Homo sapiens: one gene and its partners. The protein of the gene in region 2 purifies or fractionates together with the protein of the main gene of each other region. This does not show direct contact. Each region holds a gene or a part of one and is shown on either strand. Other genes may lie near its edges. The genes, in order: SERPINB8, CR1L and RMND1.

Region 1 (3,654 bases), on a different chromosome or scaffold from region 2:
CTTCCTCATTGACCTCCACGAAGCACTTGTGGGCAACCTTGGACAGAGGCACATTCTTCTCAGTTGACATTCCAGAAAAGTCTGCCTTGGCTTCGTCAAAAGCATCGATCATTCCTAATCTTCGAAGGAAAGGCTCCAAGTCATAACTCTCCTCCAGCTTTAATCTGGGAAGGAAAACTTGAACCTTACTTTTTGTCAACTTTTCTGAATTTGTCCAGGCTTTGAATTTCTCATATGTAAGTGCTTTTTCCACCTAGGATAAGAAAGACTCAAACCTTAAAATTTAGATGACAATAGCCTGATACCCACACACCCATTTATTACCCCTCCCCCAATGACATGCAATTAGATGGTGAGTTCTGGTCCAAGAAAATCTACAGATATTTTCTTTTATAAACACACCAAGATTTTCTCCCAAATTTTCATCTTTTCACAGTTTTATGGAGACAAGTGTAAAAGAGCTAGTAAACACCTGAGACAGGCAGAAATTTTTAATAAAAACAATTTGTACCTAACTCCTTTCAAATGTTAAAAACATTTTTTAACAGTTTAGAAAATTCTAACCAATTCATTACATTAATCTTCATGCAATACATACTACTGTGAGTGGGAGAGATTGTTTGACAAAAGACAAAGAGCATGGCTCAGAACTCTGCTTCTGAGTCTAATGAGGGGACTATTCAGGGTTAAATCAGAGGGCAACTCAGAGTAAAAGAGAGGGAATTGTGTTTCATCTGAAGATGAAGGGAGGCATGAGAAGGGAGCATGAGACGAGAAATGGGGAATGCAAGAAGACTTCATCAGCATCCTTGTTTGTCCTCTGCCTGTCCTGGAGTTAGCTTCAAATTCTTCAAGATCCATCACTCTTTCTATTTATCAATAAGGTAGAAAGAAAAAAGGGAGAAAGGCCTTCCACTAGCATCTCCCCTTCCCTTTAACAACTGGAGCCCAGGTGGGTACTCCTCTCCAACGAGCATTGTTTTGATTTTGACTCTATTTCTAGACTCTCCTAATTTTCTCATAAGTGGCCACAACAGATGTCATCCCTGACTTAGGGCAGTAGCTTTCTGATTCCAAAGGGAAGCCAGGAAAATCAAGCAGCCCACCCTCAACATCCTGTGCATTGGTGTGCCAGAGCTGACCCCTATCAATTGTTAAACCCTCAGTAGACTAAAGTCGGCCATGGTGGGAGTATTTACCATGTCATGAGAATCAGCAAACTTTATAAATGAAGGCTTCTCCCACCTCCCAGAGCTGGTTTACAAGTGCACTATTAGTCTTGCACCTCCTACCTTGCAAGTTTACCACTTCCCTTCCTGGACTCTGTTCCTTTTCTGTCACAGTAAGACTTTTCTCTCCTCTTGTATAAGGTAAATTTCCCACCTGTACTTTAGACTTTTGCTATTCATAGTGTGGTTCCAAGCATCTGTATCACTTGGAATCTTGTTACAAATGCAACATCTCAGGCCACACTCCATTGAATCAAAATCTGCACTTTAACAAGATCACTAGAATCATATATGTGCATTAGTGTTTGAGAATCACTGCCAAGATTGATCCCTACCCTTCTTCCAGGACTTTTGTGCAATAATCATTGGGCTTTCAAATAGACCTTCCATGCAGAATAAAGAATAATATTCCAAATAATAATATATTTAGAACTCTCTCTTCTTAGCTTCATCAAAACTTGTCCACTCATATATGTATACACTCAACAGAAATGCATGAACATGTTCATCAAAAGACACACAATGATGTTCACCCAGCACTGCCTGTAATAACCCCAACTGGAAACTCCTCAAATGCCAATTGGTAGATGAACATAAAGAAATGAGCTCAGCTGGACTCCACAGATACTCAGGCTCATTGCCTGGAGCTTACCACGGCGAGGTCCGTGTTGTCATCGGGAAGCAGAATGACCATGCTCAGCTCCTCTTCCACATAGGGCAGCTCCAGGACCTGGGTGTGTACCTCATCCGCATACCCCATTTTAAACTTAGCTTCCTTAAACATCATCTGCACTGTCTTTTTTTCCTAACGGAAAAATTAAAGTTCGATTACTGAAAAGTGGGTATAATTTACTAAAAATAGGATATATCTAACTCACAGAAACTCTAGGTGTGTATAATTACTGTTTCTGCACATTTATGCTGATAGATATAAAATCTTCATTAGTACATCTTAGTATTGAATAGAACAAGCTATTGTTCCAGCAGATCAAATATTACCAGGTGAGAAAAAAAAAACAGTTTGGTAAATGGAGAAGGACACAAAAATTGACATTATCCTTGGAAGAAGCTGTGTTTGCTTTTTTGAGAACATTCACAGAGAAGCTTTCTCATGGAAGCTTCCAACTAAAAATTCTTTATCGAAGTTAAGATAAATATTCAGGCCCTTGGGCTGAAGGATCTGGTTAGAAAAGATGTACGGTCCAAACTCTGGAAAGTTGCCTTGTTGTAGAATTGGTTTTATGGCCTTGGCTTTCTTAGGAAGGGGACCTTGAAGAGATGTGTAAGGTCTGCTGTTTTTAAAGCCTGCATCAAATATATTTTTAACTTTCATATCTTTGTGCAATATGAGAGTATCATATTTGATGGATGTCAAATCCCAAGCTAACAACTATTGATACCAGCCATTTTAATATTCAAAAGGGAAGGTAAAGTTAGGCTTTACATCTGCTAACTTTTTTTTCTTGTGCTCAGGATTGTATAACTTTGACTTTTAAGGCAATAAATAGGCATAGTTGCCACTGATATTGCAAAAAGGTATCTAACTAAATACAGAGAGTAATAGCATCATGCAAACATAATTCCAAGGCTTAGAAGAAATTCTCCTCCAATCCAAATCATATGACCAGAGATGGAAGGTAGATTTGATCAAAGATGGAAAAACAAAACTATCAATACCAAAATTATTTTTGTTTCTCTCTTCCTTCCGCCATTAAAGATACACAGGAGGCATTAAATTCATTCAGAAAAGAAGCCAGGCACAGTGGCTCCTGCCTGTAATTCCAGAACTTTGGGAGGATAAGGCAGGTGTATCACTTGAGGCCAGGAGTTTGAGACCAACCTGGGCAATATGACAAAACCTTATCTCTACAAAAAATACAAAAATTAGCCAGGCCTGGTGGTGTGCACCTGTAGTCACAGCTACTTGGGAAGCTAAGGTTGGGGAATCATTTGAGCCTGGGAGGTCGAGGCTGCAGTGAGCTGAGATTACACCACTGCACTCCAGCCTGGGTGACAAAAAGAGACCCTGTCTCAAAGAAAATAAAATAATATAATATAATTCAGAAATAGATTAAAATCAAGATCATGTCAAATAAATTATTCATTTTTCCAAGAGAATATTTCCTGTAATATTACTTTAAGAAAGTAGCAGTATATCTGAAAAATCTTTCCCTACCTCGTTGGTTTTAAAGAGCATTCCCCTTGTGTACTTTCTGTCAAATTGCTCATTCCACTTTCCCTTGAAATAAATGGCATTCACAAGGACCAGCTTTGTCAGGGGATCGACTGTCCCAGCATCCAGTACCTCTGAAATCTTACCTATAAAGAATATGAGAGTTTATTGCAATTTGTGGGGAAATAAGCATTCTTTTACAAAAATCCCTTTGACACATAAGGCAGAGGCTTGGTTGAGAGACAGGCTGGA
Region 2 (3,654 bases):
TTTTTTTTCTCCCTATCATTTCTACTGCGGCAACTCATCTTCCTCAAATTATCTGTGGGCTTGCAAAATAAGATGATGGAGACATCAAGTAAAAGCCTAAAGGGCCAACAGAATGCAAAGGCCTCTTCTATAGTGGAAGGACCAAAGTAGATAGATCTATTTTGATCTCCAAGGAGCATTTCTTTTCTTACTCCCTGGTCATGGTCCTGCCTCAGGTTGAGAGACTGGTCAAGAAAATTCTAACCAAGTGAAATCTCACCTTCATTTCATGTCATATTCTAAATTCTAAAATTCTCCATATATATACTGTCCAATATTTTCTTTATATATCATGTCCTGCAATGCACTTATTGGCAATACGTTTTCAGAGGACTTTCTTCCTATGGAAAATTTCAAACTAAACATGCCTACCCCCAGAAAAACAGTATCTTGACTTATTTTTTCTAGATATTTTATATTATAATTAATATTAAGCTACAATACTATACCTCAACAGTAGGTGCCATTATATCATAAGATAGGTGCAGTCAGAAATTTCCCCAAAGTTCCAGGTGAGTTTTAGTAAAGTGAATTATCTACACTGGGCCGGGTGCAGTGGCTCACGTCTGTAATCCCAGCAGTTTGGGAGGCCGAGGCGGGCGGATCACGAGGTCAGGAGATAGAGACCATCCTGGCTAACATGGTGAAACCCCATTTCTACTAAAAATACAAAAAATTAGCCAGGTGTAGTGGCACACGCCTGTAGTCCCAGCTACTCGGGAGGCTGAGGCAGAAGAATTGCTTGAACCCAGGTGGCAGAGGTTGCAGTGAGCTGAGATTGCACCACTGCACTCCAGCCTGGGCAGCAGAGCGAGACTCTGTCTCAAAAAAAAAAAAAAATCTACACTGCATCCACTGAACTGTTCAACTTCTGTACATTCACACCTGCTTGCAAAAAATTAACTAATGTACACGCATACCCACAGCCCTGCCCAGATTAGTATTACCAGAAATTCATGGTATTTGACTACAAGTGAAATGGCAATGAAACCTGACCATCTTGCTCCTTCTCCCACTATCCAATCTATTTAAAACCTTTTTTGCTTCCACAAAACATAAACTCTGACATCTACATATTTCAATTTTATTTCTCACTTCCCACTCATTTTTAGGTCTATGAAAATTACTTCAACTACTTTCTGAGTCATTAAAGGGCCTCCTCCTTGTTAAACTCCTCCTAACAGTCTCTTCCTTAATAGTTTGAATTACCCTCTTGATAACGTGAGAGCTACTGATCACTCTGCCCTCACTCTCTTCTGCCTGAAGAGTTCTCACTCCTTGGCTTTTAGGAGAGCAAACCACTCTGGTTTTCAGCTTGTCCTCTGGCTCATACCAAGGTAATATCCCTGATGAGTCTGTAGGAGGACTTCCTGTGATTCCATTCTGCAGGTCCCCCTGGGAGAATATATACACTTCTGTGACTTCATTACCACTGATAACCAGCTGCCTCCTAGCTGGGTATCTCTCCATCCCAGATCTCTAGCTGGGGTGCCAAAACTACATATTCAATTGCCTCCCCACACAGCTCTACTTGGAATGTGTCACTCTAGCTCAAACAACAAAGGGAGGCCCAAGAGCCACTTTTGACTCTACACACACATACACATACACACACACGCCCCCCAAACAAGTTATGTTTCCACAACTGAAATGCCCGTTTATTCTATGTAGTTGTATCCTTTACTTTTCATTCAAGCCACTATCATTTCTTATCTGGATTACCACGACATAACTAAATAGGTCTCCATACCTATCTTGCCACCTTTCATTCAATTCATTTTTCACATTACCAGAGCAGTATTTATATGACAGAGTAATCAAGGTTTTTCCAAGACAGATACCTTTCGATGGCTCTCCAATGACCTCAGGATAATGTCTAAGGCTTCCTAACATAGCTTAGAGACTTTTAAATCCCATCACAATCAGAACCCAAGAATACATTCCAGTTAGGTTGGCAGACCCAGGAGGCAGGCCAGTCAACTAGGTTCCCAGGCCACACTGCTGAACCACTACCAAACTGCTTCCCATTACTGCCATTCATCTGGAGCTCCCACATGCTGAGACCGACAAACTCTATCTGCAATTAGGTCCTCAAGAAATTGCCTACTACTGTGTCTCGGGAAATTAAAACAACCCTAGTTTGGAGTCACGTTGTGCTAAGTCAAACAAAAGGGCTCAAGCTGCCCTAAAAGGACAGGGAATAATACCAAAGTCTGAGTTTACGATGGTGATTGTTTATTCCTGACAAGCCTGTTGCTTTTTAGAACTGCTCACCCTGTGATTTATTCCTCTCCCTTCTTTGTTGTCTCCTTTACCCTACTCTGCCACACTGAATAGCTTGGCAGTCCAGCAGTGTCACATCTTGGTGCCTTTGCTCACCTTGCTTCCTCTGCTCTGAATACCCTTCCTCCCTGGCCGGTAGCTACAACTCCTGCTCAGCTCTTGTCTTCTTTAATCCACCCATCATCTCCTCCAAGAAGCATTTTCTGCCTCCCCCTGGGAAGCAGTGATCAGTCACCTTCCCCTGGACTCTCCCCTGCATGGATCTCTCAGGTAATTATCACGTGTTTTTGAGTTTAATAGTTAACAAGGCCGACTCCATTCATCCATGTGGCCACAACACCCAGCACAATATGTCCCTCATAGTAGCTATTTGAAAAAAATTTGGTACTCAAAGTCCACTGCTGTCAAACACAAAACAATGTGAAGAATATATTGTAATCAATTTCATATTGAAAATAATCATTCTACAGAACAATGGAGAAAGAAGATTTAGCCATTTCTTGTGCTGCCTATCTCCCAGTCTTCTGGTATCCTGGCAGGTGACCAGATATGGACTGCTCTTTTTGCATTGTAGTATGCCGAGTGAGGAAACTAAGAAGCAATAAGAACTTACTGGTCTTGGCTTCTTTCATTGAAAATAAGGAAAACACCTGAAATAGGCAGAAGAGACCACACACAACAGGAGATCGGGGGTTTTGTCCAAAAAAGCAGCTCCTCTTCTGGAGGAATGAATGAGACTGGCCTGAAATTTGACACATGTTTCCTTCTGCTATCTGGAACCATTTGGCAACTACCTTTGAGAGGGCAGGTCTCCCATGCACAGCACCACCTGCTTACAAAACCTTATCTTTGTGAGAGTGAGTTGCTCCAAAAATTGAATGTTTATTTTAATTCATGTATTCTCTCTGCCTAGCATCGTGAGTTCTCATTTTTACTTTCTCTAGGTTTCATACCTGTCTTGATTTAACCCTATCAACCTCAAACTTAACCTTATTTTTCCTTCTCTTCATTTTTAGTTTTGTTATCTTCCATGTTGCACCCTATTCATTTTATAATTCTATGTTCCTCTATTTCAAATTGCTTTCATTATCTTCTTCAACTTCCAGGTTTTTTTTTTTTTTCTGTGTGTGTGTGTGTGTCTGTGTGTGTGTGTGTGTGTGTGTGTGTGTGTTTGAGACCGGGTCTCACTCTGTCACCCAAGCTGGAGTGCAGTGGTATGATTAGGGCTCACTGCAGCCTTGACCATGGGGGCTCCAGTGATCCTCCCCCTTCACGCCCTTCAGCCTCCCAAGTAGCTGGGACCACAGGCATGCAACATCACACCTGGCTAAT
Region 3 (3,654 bases), on a different chromosome or scaffold from region 2:
AAGGATAGTTAATAAAAAGGAGAACGTTCACAGTAAATTTCTATGTGAAAAAATGCTGCATATAAAACTATATATGGAGTGTAATCTAAAATCACACTGACATGATGGGGTTGGGGAGGGAGGCAAGGAAGTTGTGAAAAATGAGTATGTGACTGTGGAGAATCCTAGACAGGGGACAGGGGAAGAGCGGAATGTGTGAATATAAACATCACAAGCAAATGGAAAAAAGACAGGGTAAACCTTCACAAAAGATGTCAGACAAGAAGTGACGGCCAAAGGGAGGGGGACAAGGGGCCTGATGGAGGGCGGCATCTGCTATGACAGCCTCAGATGGAGGAAGGAAAGCAAAGACAGCAGTCACAAGAGGTCTTTTTTTTTGAGACGGAGTCTTGCTCTGTCACCCAGACTGGAGTGTAGTGGCGTGATCTTCGCTCACTGCAACCTCCGCCTCCTGGGTTCCAGCGATTCTCCTGCCTCAGCCTCCTGAGTAGCTGGGATTACAGGAGTGCACCACCACATCCAGCTAATTTTTATATTTGTAGTACAGACAGGGCTTCACCATGTTGGCCAGGCTGGTCTTGAACTCCTGACCTCAAGTGATCTGCCCGCCTTGGCCTCTCAAAGTGTTGGGATTACAGGCATGAGCCACTGTGCTTGGTCACAAGATGCTTTATGAGTAAACTGGGCCCATGCCACAGAGCTGAGCAGATCCCTGGAATCATGGCAGAACTCACATAATAACCATGTAGGTGGCAGCCAGGACAGTCTTTCTGACGAAACAAAATAACTGACTCTGGGATCCTAAGCACTGAGGATTTTACTCCTCACAGACTGTACAGTAACGTGTGTGTGTGTGTGTGGATAAGCGTACACACACACACACACAAGGGTCTAGCAGTAGTTGGATATGGAAGTATTTGGTTGGTGCAAAAGTAATCGCGGTTTTTGCCATTTTAATGTAAACCTAATAGAACACAGAAAGGGGATTCACAGGAGCTGTATCTGCAGGCCAAGGGCTGAGTAACTACTAAAGATAATAAAACTACAGGCTGCTCATTTGCTGTCTCTCTCAGGTTTATATCCTTACCTCTGACTGCAGCCACCACTGGGCTCAGGCTGACTCACAGTCAGGTGCCCTTTGGCAAGACAGGATTCAATAAATCTCATCGGAAAGCCAGTTAGCTGCAATTATAGGGTTTTCCCCAGGATTAAATGAAATAATACATGGAAGGCACTTACTTAGAAAACCGTGACTGGCCCTATTGGTGGTGAGCGCTGATTACTCAGCTCTTATCCCCATCTGGTCTTTCTATAGCTAGTCTCTGTCTCTCTTCCAAGTCTTCCCAAAGCTCTGCTTTTAACGCTTTTTTTTTTTTTTTGAGACAGAGTCTCACTCTGTTGCACAGGCTGGAGTGCAGTGGTGCGATCTCAGGTCATGGCAACCTCTGCCTCCCAGGTTCAAGCAATTCTCTGCCTCCGCCTCCGCCTCCCAAGTAGCTGGGATCACAGACACTCGCCACTATGCCCGGGTAATTTTTGTATTTTTAGTAGAGATGGGGTTTCGCCATGTTGGCCAAGCTGTCTTGAACTCCTGACTCAGTTGATCCTCCCACCCTGGCCTCCCAAAGTGCTGAGATTACAGGTGTGAGCCACCAAATCTGGCTAACACTACCTTTCTTAAGAACCTGCAAAGACTCATATTTCACTAGACAGGTAACTCCATGAGGAAAAAGACACTACCATCTTGTTCATACTGCCTCTGTCTCGGCCCTAACATCTCTTCATTTTTTCCCTCTGGCTGAGTCAGGAAAATCAGCTAGTCTGTTGCCTACCCATTTATCTTAGTGAAACTGGTACACCAGGTCCCACTTCTTCCAGCACCCACACTTCTACAAGTGGGTCTCTTAGATTGACCCCTCACTATACTTCCTTTTCATACCCCCACCCCCCAAAATCAATAGGAAAAAACTGGATTAAGAGAAAAATTTACTGGAATAATTTGATAGGTTCATTTGATAAATGCATACTATTTTATTGGATTAGGCTGATTAGAAACTTAACATTTCCATTTTGGGGCTATACTACTGACTTGTTTTAACTTGTGGATAGCCTGAGAAGTTCAAAAAATTATGTTTATCTTCTAATATTTATTATATGGTTTAGACTTTGTATTTGTACCAGTAATCTTTTTCCTCTTTTTTTTTGAGACGGAGTTTCACTCTTGTCACCCTGGCTGGAGTGCAATGGCGTGATCTCGGCTCACTGCAACCTCCGCCTCCCAGGTTCAAGCAATTCTCCTGTCTCAGCCTCCCGAGTAGCTGGGATTACAAGCACCCGCCACCATAACCAGCTAATTTTTGTATTTTTTAGTAGAGATGGGGTTTCACCATGTTGGCCAGGCTGGTCCTGAACTCCTGACCTCAGGTAATCCACCTGCCTCAGCCTCCCAAAGTGCTGGGATTACAGGTGTGAGCTACCACGCCTGGCCACTTTTTTCTTAAAAGTAAGTTTCCAGGCCAGGTCCAGTGGCTCACGCCTGTAATCCCAGCACTTTGAGAGGCTGAGGTGGGCGGATCACCAGGTCGAGATCCAGACCATCCTGGCCAACATGGTGAAACCCTGTCTCTACTAAAAATACAAAAAATTAGCTGGGCGTGGTGGTGCACACCTGTAGTCCCACTTACTCAGGAGGCTGAGGCAGGAGAATTGCTTGAACCCGGGAGGCAGAGGTTGCAGTGAGCCGAGATTGTGCCACTGCACTCCATCCTGGGCGACAGAGTGAGACTCCGTCTCAAAAAAAAAAAAAAAGTTTCCATATGCATAATAATTTGTCTCCTCTATTGCTTTACCTAATTTATTCCAAGTGCCCCTTTCATAAATTTGATGAAAAGTTGCTTACTCTATTTTTATGTAGTTAAGTTCTTCATTTTCCCAGTGTACCAGTGCGATTTCATAGGGCTGAATTTCATGTTTTTCTAGAACTTTCATCACATGCTTCATCTAGAAGAAAAGGAAGATTAATCTGAAATCATAACTGACTCCCTCAGTTCAAGTATGTTATGATTTTAATGCTTATAACAGTCTTCATTACACTTACAGGCATTATTTCTGTTGCATGTTTTTAAGGAAAAGGCAAATCAAATCCATTGTGATATTAAAGTAATCAGGATGACATGTTCATTTGTTTTTACATTTGGAAAACACAGATGAGAATGGAGAAGAAAATCAAGGTTATCATTATCCCACAACCCAAGGAAAATCACTAGTAATATTATAATTTGTATTCTTTAAATCTCTTTAATAATCCCAGCATTTTGGGAGGCAGAGGCGGGTGGATCCTTGAGCTCAAAAGTTCAAGACCAGCCTGGGCAACGTGGCAAAATCCTGTCTCTACAAAAAAATACAAAAATTATCTGGGTGTGGTGATGTACACCTGTAGTCCCAGCTACCTGAGAGGCTGGCTTGAGCCTGGGAGGTGGCGGTTGCAGTGAGCCAATGTCAGCCGGTGTGACAGAGCAAGACCCTATCTCAAAAAAATAAATAAATAAAAAATAAAAAGTAAAGCCCAACATACTAATAAAAAATTAAGCCACACAGGTGTGGGAGGTGATCATCTCTTTCTCTCTTCTGTACTGAAATCCTAATCCCCAGAGG

Evidence for each region.
Region 1: the proteins of CR1L (region 2) and SERPINB8 purify together in Homo sapiens (affinity purification with mass spectrometry; one large-scale study listed by BioGRID and IntAct). This does not show direct contact.
Region 3: the proteins of CR1L (region 2) and RMND1 purify together in Homo sapiens (affinity purification with mass spectrometry; one large-scale study listed by BioGRID and IntAct). This does not show direct contact.

The regions. Positions count from the first base shown.
Region 1 is NC_000018.10:63,983,473-63,987,126, reverse strand, and holds part of SERPINB8 (serpin B8), read right to left. Parts: intron 3,549-3,654; coding exon 3,406-3,548; intron 2,035-3,405; coding exon 1,882-2,034; intron 870-1,881; coding exon of another isoform or gene 861-869; exon of another isoform or gene 477-860; intron 254-476; coding exon 1-253. UniProt on the Homo sapiens protein: Has an important role in epithelial desmosome-mediated cell-cell adhesion.
Region 2 is NC_000001.11:207,648,014-207,651,667, reverse strand, and holds part of CR1L (complement component receptor 1-like protein precursor), read right to left. Parts: intron 1-3,654.
Region 3 is NC_000006.12:151,424,583-151,428,236, forward strand, and holds part of RMND1 (required for meiotic nuclear division protein 1 homolog), read right to left. Parts: intron 3,001-3,654; coding exon 2,900-3,000; intron 1-2,899. UniProt on the Homo sapiens protein: Required for mitochondrial translation, possibly by coordinating the assembly or maintenance of the mitochondrial ribosome.